Regions from separate parts of the Homo sapiens genome. Here regions 1 and 3 are each linked to region 2. The links come from fine-mapping of genetic effects on gene expression. A gene starts in region 2. Each other region holds a variant in brackets. All regions are shown on one strand. Distances are from middle to middle.

Region 1 (2,757 bases), 20 kb after region 2:
AGATCGAGAATCACTCATATAAGCGAGAAAGTGGATACCAGAAGAGGTGGCGTTCCGGAGCAGAAGGTAGAGAGAGCACACGCTGGAGTCCAGGGCGCGGGGAGGCCCAGGGGTGTTTGGGAGCCCAGAGGAGTTGTTGCAGTGGCGGTGGATGAGGGCGTGAGAGGACAGGGCCTCTGTGTGGGCAGGGGCTGTTTGCAATATCAGGAAGAAGGTGGATTATGAGGAGAAGGGATGACTCCTTGAAGCCCGAGCTGGTTTAGTGAGCAGAAGTTCCATATATACCATCATTCCTGGGGTGCGTCTGTGGCACGGGAGCGGCCCGTGTGACCCTCTGGATGAAGGAGGTTTTGTACCTGTTGAGTTGGAAACGTACCTGGTTAGAGTCTTTCCCAAGGAAATCCAGAACCCCTGGAGGGTGGAGGCCTTGTTCTGGCCGCCCCTGTGTCCTCAGCACTCAGCACGGGGCCCAGCATCGGGCAAGTACCGCGGAGTGTTTGTCGAGTGAGTGCATGACAGAGGAAAGAGGTTCCCTGCAGGCCTCTCCTGCAGCCCGCTGGAGCTGGGTGGGCAGAGGTGGCTGTGCCTGTTGGGGACTGATGTGAGCATGTTTCTTTCCAGGCCTTGGATGTATGGGCCACTGGCGTCACGTTGTACTGCTTTGTCTATGGGAAGGTGAGTGCCAGGGATGCCAGCAGAGCTGGGGCGGGTCCAGTGAGGCGGGCACGGGCGACGGATGCAGGCTCTTCCTTTTTGTCCTTAAGTGGCTTTTGAAAGAGCCCACCTGGCTCAGAGAAGGCTGAGAGAGAAGAGGCTTTTTCTATCTTTCTCTGGTCCCCTGCGGAGCGATTCTCGCGAAGGAGTCGCAGGACAGCAGACACCTAAGGGGAGGTGCCGACGATGGTGTTGCCACCGCCCCAGCCAGAGTGCTCCCCGTCCCTCTGTCCCTTGACGCCATTCACTTATTGAGCCATGTGTTCACTCCCTTGCTCATTTATTCGACAAATTGTCCTTCACCCCTACCCTGGCTGAGGCTGGACCCTGGGGACACCCAACGCTGACGTATCGGTGATCCCTGCCCGCAGGTGTGCCTGCTCTGGTGACCACACTAAGGGGCAGGGGGGAATTTCAGTGAACATGTTCCCAAGCCCCAGGCCCTGGGAGTGGAGGCCTGGCCACAGGTGGCGGTAATGGTGGTGGGTGCACCCAGCCTGGCCTGGCCTGGCCGCGGGTGGCAGTAACGGCGGTGGATGCACCCAGCCTCATTGTTCCCTCAGCAACTCATTCATTCAGTCAACATTTGTTGAACATTTACAGTGTGAGTTGAGGTCCTTCTCATGTAATGGGAGCCCAGACCTGCCCCCTACCCCTGCCCCCACCAAGGGAGGGGGGTTGATCCCCTGGCACAGGTCGAGGCCCTGGACCCACATCCTTTGTCTGCCTCTCCACCCCACAGTGCCCATTCATCGACGATTTCATCCTGGCCCTCCACAGGAAGATCAAGAATGAGCCCGTGGTGTTTCCTGAGG[A/G]GTGAGTTGTCCACCCAGGGGAACAAGGGGGCTACCACCCGCTCCTGGTGTCTGAGTTTTAGCAGAGCTTTTGCCCTCTGAGGACCCCACCCCAGCCTGCAGATATGAAGGTGGCGGTGCTGTTCCCTGGGAGGGACCCCTGAATAGATGGACGGGAGGGACTCTGGAGCCAAGGGTCTCCGCAACGTCACTGTGTGGATGGGAACCCTGAGATCCAGGGTTGGCCAGGGATGACCACAGGCATCATTCACACCACTCCTTCACCGCAGGCCTGCCTGGGGTCAGTGGCGCCAGCCCCACCCAGCCCCTGGACTCAAGGGGAACTTCTCCTTCCCCCACTCAGGGTCAGGGAACTTCAAGATGCCAGTGCGTGCTCCCCATTTCACAGATGGAAAAGAGGATGCTCTGGAGGAGAGCGGTCAGGGGGCTGGGACTCAAGCCACTCTTCCTCCCCACTCTTCCCATTGTGACCGAGGTCTCTGAGCGTAGCAGGGACGTCGGGGAGGCCTCTTGCTCATGCATGGTTCGCCTCATGACGGCCACCGTGGCAGCCACAGCCTGAGCTCCCAGGCTCCTCTTTTCAGCAGTGGATTTCAGGAGTGAAATGGAGGCCGGGTGCGGTGGCTCACGCCTGTAATCCCAGCACTTTGGGAGGCTGAGGTGGGCAGATCACCTGAGGTTAGGAGTTAGAGACCAGCCTGGCCAACATGGTGAAACCCCATCTCTACTAAAAATACAAAAATTAGCCAGGCGTGGTGGCGCACATCTGTAGTCCCAGCTACTCGGGAGGCTGAAGCACGAGAATTGCTTGAACCCAGGAGGCAGAGGTTGCAGTGAGCCTGGGCGACAGAGCAAGACTCTGTCTCAAAAAAAAAAAACAGAAGAAAGAAACTGAATAAGGCCGGGTGCGGCGGCTCACACCTGTAATTCCAGCACTTTGGGAGGCCAAGGAGGGCGGATCACGAGGTCAGGAGATCGAGACCATCCTGGCTAACACGGTGAAACCCCATCTCTACTAAAAATAGAAAAAAAATTAGCCGGGCGTGGTGGCGGGTGCCTGTAGTCCCAGCTACTCGAGAGGCTGAGGCAGGAGAACGGCGTGAACCCGGGAGGCAGAGGTTTCAGTGAGCTGAGACCGTGCTACTGCACTCCAGCCTGGGCGACAGAGCGAGACTCTGTCTCAAAAAAAAAAAAAAAAAAAAAAAAACAAAAAAAAAAAAACAAAAAA
Region 2 (2,757 bases):
GATTGCTGGAGCTCTAGCTGGTATCCTGAACCATGAGGTCAAAAGCCACACTCAAGTTGCTGGAATTATTCATTCAACAACATCCACTGAGCACCTGTGCCATGCGACAGGCTGTGTGCTGGACGAATCAGGCACAGTGCTTGCCATCCAGGAGCTCCCAGTCCCAATGAGGAACCAGCAGGTAAACAGATGCCAGGTACAAGGAAGTACCTGGGTGGGGCCACTAACCCATGCTGGAAGTGGGGAGGTCATGGAGAAGGTTTCCAGGCAGAAGTAGGATTGAATTGAACCCTGAAAGACGAGTAGGCGTTAAACAGGCAGGTGGCTGGGAGTAAGGCTATACAGGGCTTGATTAGACCTATTCTCACGGTGAGCCATAGAAAATGCCTCTCGGTGGACTTGTGTTCCTGAAAACTTGCTCTGGGTGCCAGGGAGAGAAAGGCTAGTAGGAGGTGAGACTGGATGGGGCTGGAGGCCAGGGAGGAGGCTGCTGCAGCAATCAGGGACAAGATGGTGGTAGCCTGAGCTAAGGGAGGGGAAGTGGGGTGGAGAGGAGTGGGCCGATTCCAGGGATAGTTAAGAGGCAGTATGGCAGGGCCTGGAGATGGACTGGTTGGAGCAGGAAACAGGGAGGCAGCAGGTGACTCCCAGGCTCCTGGCTCCACTTCGAGACAGGGACGCAGGAGGTTAGATTTGGGGGAAGGATATGGGGCAAGTGGTGGTGCCAGAGGATTCACACGCGGAGGCGTTAGGGGAAGAGGTGGCGGCAGAGTCCCCAGGAACAGCCACAGCGAAGGTCACCTCACTGTCCTGCTGAGTTCCCTCTACTCCCTCGGCCCTCGCTAGGCCATTCCTGTCGCCGGCTCACCGAGCAAGCACTTCACTCTGTGCTAAGCCACCTCTCGGCCTCTCTGCCCCCGCCCCGCAGAAGCTACACTCCTGGGCCTGCCATTCAAGGCCTTCCTCCCCGGGCCTCGCCCCTCCCTCGCACGCACCGCGCCTCGCCCGGGAGGGAGGGGCGCTCTGGCTCCTGCAGGCCGGGATGGGGGCGCAAAGGGTTTGGCGGGGAAGCACGGTCCCCTGCAGGCCCAGGAGAAGGGCCCACGCCGCGGCCGGGAGGGACTTCGGGGACCCCAGGACGCCGGGGGCGTGGCGAGGTCGGCCCCGCCGCAGGGGAGGGAGGGCCCCTACCGCGCCGCCCACCGCGGTCCCTTAGTCCAGGAGGGGGCGGGAGTCCCGGGCTCCGATTGGGCGGCGCTGGCGGGGCCGTTCGCTCCGACCAATGAGCGCCGGCCGGGCGCGGCGGTGGGCGGGGCAGCGAGCGCTGCCCGGAGCCGCGGCGCCCGCGGGCTGAGCTCGGCGATCTGGGCCCCAGCGAGGCGGTGGGGCGGGGCGGGGCGGGGCGGGGCGCGCAGCAGGAGCGAGTGGGGCCGCCCGCCGGGCCGCGGACACTGTCGCCCGGCGCCCAGGTAGGGATCGGCGGGGCGGGGACGCGGGCGAGGAGCAGGAGGACGAACGCCTTAACACCTGCCCCGAGCCTGCAAGGGAGAGGCGGGGGGGGTCTGCCAGGCCGCGTCTACGAGGGAGCTGGGATCTGGTCAGGGCGGGGATCCTTCCCCTTCTGTCTGCGGGGCCGGGTCTGCGGGGTGCCTCGCGGAGTCTGCTCGGGTCTGCGCCGGCCGCCGGGACCGCATCGCCGCGGGTGCCCCGCCGTCTGCGTTCTTCCCCGCTTCTGTCTGCGGACCGCATCCATCCCCGGTGCACTGTCCCCCGCGCCCGGCTCCTGGTGGAGGCCACGTCTGTGCGGAGTGGGCCCGGCCCGGGGCACCCACGTGCGGTTCTCCGCGGAGCGCTCCTCCCACGGCCCGCCGGAGCGTCTTCCTGCAGGAGCCGGGGGCGGGGTGGGAGATGAATGGGGCGGCGGCGGCGCGCGGCTCAGGCTGCGCAGGGTCCTGCCTTGGCTGGGGCGAGAGGGGGCGGCAGAGGCGGGCGCTGCGGCTTCGGGGCCCGGGAGGCGCAGGGCTGGTGGCTGGGGGGGTGTCCACGTGCGCAGGGACCTGCGTGTGCTGTTTGGAGGCGGGTGTGCGTGTGTCACGTGGACGCGGGAGTGTGCCTGTGTCTGCGTGGGGGGTGCAGGACAGGATGGAGTGGTGTGTGAGGGCGGGTCACGCGGACACGGGCGTGTGCCTGTCAGGGGAGGGGGTGTGCTCAAGTCTTGGCGTTGCAGGGCTGTGCAGAGAAGGCTGTGTCACAGGCCACAGGACCGGGCCTTGGTGGTGTCCGCAGGGCGGGCACAGGAGTGTGGGAGGGGCACACAGCCTGTGCGCGCTGGAGGATCCCAGGGAAGTGGCGCTGGCCTCCCCAAGCCCTGCCCTCTTTCCTCCAGTACATACAAATTGACCCCCCACTGCGTCCCAGGCGCACACACTCTGGGGACCCTTCGCCTCTTCCTCGGTCTCCCACCGTCAGTCCTCACAGCAGCCATGGGAGTCGTTTTAAACCTCACCTAACCGAGGCACTCCCCTGCTCACAACCTCCCCCTGGCTTTGGGGGCCTCCTGGGCTCTGTCCACCAAGCTCTCCCCACCCCCAAACCAAGCCCGGAGTCCCAGCCAGGAAATGACTCTCCTATATGCACAGTGCAAACTTCCATCCTCGCCTCATCCTGAAATCCTGCTCAGTGCTCAGAAGAGAGCTCAGGTGCCACCTCCTCTAGGAAGCCATCCCTGAGGCCAGCACAATGAGTGAGGGGGCTTTC
Region 3 (2,757 bases), 170 kb before region 2:
AAATACTTAACACAGTATCTGGCACCCAAGTAGTGGTGGGAGGGATGGGTTTATATTCACAAAGAAGATAAATAATCTCATCTCCATGCTTCTGGGTAACTCTCTTGAGCCCGTCAGAGGGACTCACTTGCTGTTTTGTGTGTTACCTTCTATAGGTATTATATTTGTATTTACTTAAGTTCCTGTGCCGCTTTGCTCAGCTGACTGCCACTTGCTCTTTTTCATGTAAGAAATCATTATTATTATTAAGAAAAAGATGTTCTGGCAATTAAGTGAATCAGTGATTTCCTCTGTTTCTAGTTATTTTGGACACCTGGAAGGCTGTGGTGCTGATCTACACAAAGAAATTCGAGACACTTACTATCAACTTGTTCTGTTTTTGGTCAAAGCAGTTAAAGGATTTAGTAGCCTAAATGACAGGTACTGGATAACTTTATCATTTCTAGAGAAAAAAAATGTATTTTTTTCTGATTATAAAAGAAATATATGTTCACTGTCAAAAATACCAAAAAGCACAAAGAATAAAATAAAAATAACCTCTAATGTTACCACCTAGAGAGCTAATCACTAATGTTAACTTATTCGTATATTTTCTCCCAGTCCTTTTTCTGTCTGGTGTGTATATTTTCTTTTTAAGGGGATGAGTCTGGGTTTTTCTAAGAATTTATAGCCTATTATTTTCTGTTTTGGTATATTAGGGATTTTTTGGTTTGTTTTGAGACGGCCTCATGCTGTCACCCAGGCTAGAGTGCAGTGACTCAATTGTGGCTCACTGCAGCCTGGACCTCCCAGGCTCAATTGATCTACTCACCTCAGCTTCCTAAGTAGTTGGGACTGCAGGTGCATGCCACCATGCCCGGCTAATTTTCTTTATGTTTTGTAGAAACGGGATTTTGCCATGTTGCTCAGGCTGGCCTTGAGCTCCTGGGCTCAAGCAGTCTGCCTGCCTCGGCCTCCCAAAGTGCTGGAATTACAGTCATGAGCCACCACGCCCAGCCAGTATATTATGTATTATGTACAGTTTGAAAAC[G/A]AGTATAAAGCCATTTCCCAGTCCTCTTAGTAAATGGTTTAGACATAAGCCTTAAATCAAATGATTCTTCGGTAAATCTAAACTGCATAACCTTGGCTAATTTGGAGCTGGCCCTGATCTTGCAGTTTATCAGAAAGTGATTTTCACTTCTCAGTTCTTTACCATAAGATACCCCTGTGGTGGTCCTGGCAGGGTGGAAACCTTACTTTACACTTTTCAGAGTTATTTTGTGTAAGCTTTGAAGGATGTTTGTGTGGAGTATGAGGAATTTGAAAGGAACCCAAACCAGCAATGTGAAGTTCCCTTCTGCTTTCAATTGCAAACCAGGTCACCTACTTGAATTGCTTCTGTTGCCTCTGTTGGGAGTAAGCAGCTCTGCTAATGGTCACTTTCATGGCCCTTTAGGTCCTTGCTCCCTGCCTTATCCTGTGTTCAGACAGCCCTGCTTCATCTTTTGGATATGGGCTGGGAACCCAATGATCTCGCCTTCTTTGTTGATATTCAGTTACCAGATCTCCTCATGAAAATGTCACAGGAGAATATAAGTGTCCATGACAGTGTGATCAGGTAAGAGCACGGTCCTGCGCTCTGCAGTTCCTAATGTAGGTTATGAAACGCAAGGAACATAGTGGGGGCGTTAAGAGCACAGACTCCGGAGCTAGACTGTCTGTGTCATATCTTGGCTTTGCCACATCCTAGCCGAGTGGCCTTGCGCAAGTCTTATAATCCCTCTGTGCCTCAGTTTCCTCATCTTCAGAGCTGGAGATAACAATGGTGCTGCCTCCGAGGCTTGTTGTGATGAGTACCTGAGTTATGTATTTCAGTGTTTAGAACCGCGTCTGGCATGCAGTAGAGCTATGTACATTGGTGGTGGTGAACTCGTGAGCTCTGAGGCCGAGAATCCTCTGCATTTTGGTGATCTTAGTATAGCTTGCTGAATTGGGAAATCCTTTCCATAATTTTTGTTACATGTATATGTTATGTTAGCCACTCTAACTTCTTGCACATTATAAGGACCTCAGTTAGAAAAAAGTCATGTATGAAGGGTTTTTTCCCTCCGATTTGGCCCGTATCTCTCCACTCTACTCAAATCCACTTCCCTATTCGTGGCCATTCATGTGTAGAAAAGAGGAGAAGGGGAGGGGGAATGCACTAAGAGGAGAGAAGTGGGAAGAAGTGAATGAGTCAACACCAGGACAGTCTCCACTCTCTCAGGAGAGCGGTTCCAAGGGAAAAGGGGACAGAATTAGAGCCGTCTCTTTAGTTCACGAACCTCAGCTGTCGCCTCGCTGTTGGAGCTCCGTTGGCAGAGGCGGGGCAGCACTAGGGGGCATGAGCCTGTGGATCTTGGCTGTGGGCCTGCTCGCGGTTTCTCGCTTTGTCTCCCCGCACGCCACAGTCCTCAGGGAAGGAAGCGCGCCCTTTACAGCAAGCCCCCGTGGCACCGAGCGCAAAGCTTGAGTATGAGTGTAGGCCCAAAACCATTTCGTTGGAATGCATGAATGAATGAATGTGTATTTGTAGCTTGGTAAATATTTTGTATTTGCTCTTAAGCAAATCTTTTTCTGTTTAAAGTTCTATTTGTTAAAACGAGCTGTAAACTGAAATTATGGAAATTTACAATTTTGCATCCAAAAGGAACTTATAAGATTATCTACCTGAAGCGCTTTATTTGAAATGAGGAAACTGTGGCCATACCACCCTGAATGCACCTGATCTCGTCTGAA

Alleles and levels. Positions count from the first base shown, and alleles are read on the strand shown. Sizes are in standard deviations (SD) of each study's normalised expression. Not every link is listed here.
As copies of G replace A in region 3, the expression in stomach of the gene that starts at base 1,355 in region 2 goes up (large effect, 0.78 SD a copy in GTEx).

The links. PIP is the estimated chance that this variant, and not a neighbour inherited with it, causes the effect.
Region 1: its variant is fine-mapped to the expression of CAMKK1 in whole blood (TOPMed, PIP 0.97).
Region 3: its variant is fine-mapped to the expression of CAMKK1 in stomach (GTEx, PIP 0.97).

What each region holds. Positions count from the first base shown.
Region 1 is chr17:3,871,327-3,874,083 of GRCh38, reverse strand. CAMKK1 (calcium/calmodulin dependent protein kinase kinase 1) reads left to right here. Exons shown (of 16, transcript NM_032294.3): 11 at 622-675; 12 at 1,457-1,530. Among named protein-coding and RNA genes, the nearest start is that of CAMKK1, 20 kb to the left of the region's middle. The variant A/G (reference allele first, on the strand shown) is at 1,530.
Region 2 is chr17:3,891,651-3,894,407 of GRCh38, reverse strand. CAMKK1 (calcium/calmodulin dependent protein kinase kinase 1) reads left to right here and starts at 1,355. Exons shown (of 16, transcript NM_032294.3): 1 at 1,355-1,469. RefSeq lists silencers at 909-1,448, 1,479-1,658, 1,799-2,048.
Region 3 is chr17:4,056,834-4,059,590 of GRCh38, reverse strand. ZZEF1 (zinc finger ZZ-type and EF-hand domain containing 1) reads left to right here. Exons shown (of 55, transcript NM_015113.4): 31 at 301-420; 32 at 1,436-1,597. It also overlaps the pseudogene RNA5SP434. Among named protein-coding and RNA genes, the nearest start is that of LINC01975, 81 kb to the right of the region's middle. The variant G/A (reference allele first, on the strand shown) is at 1,031.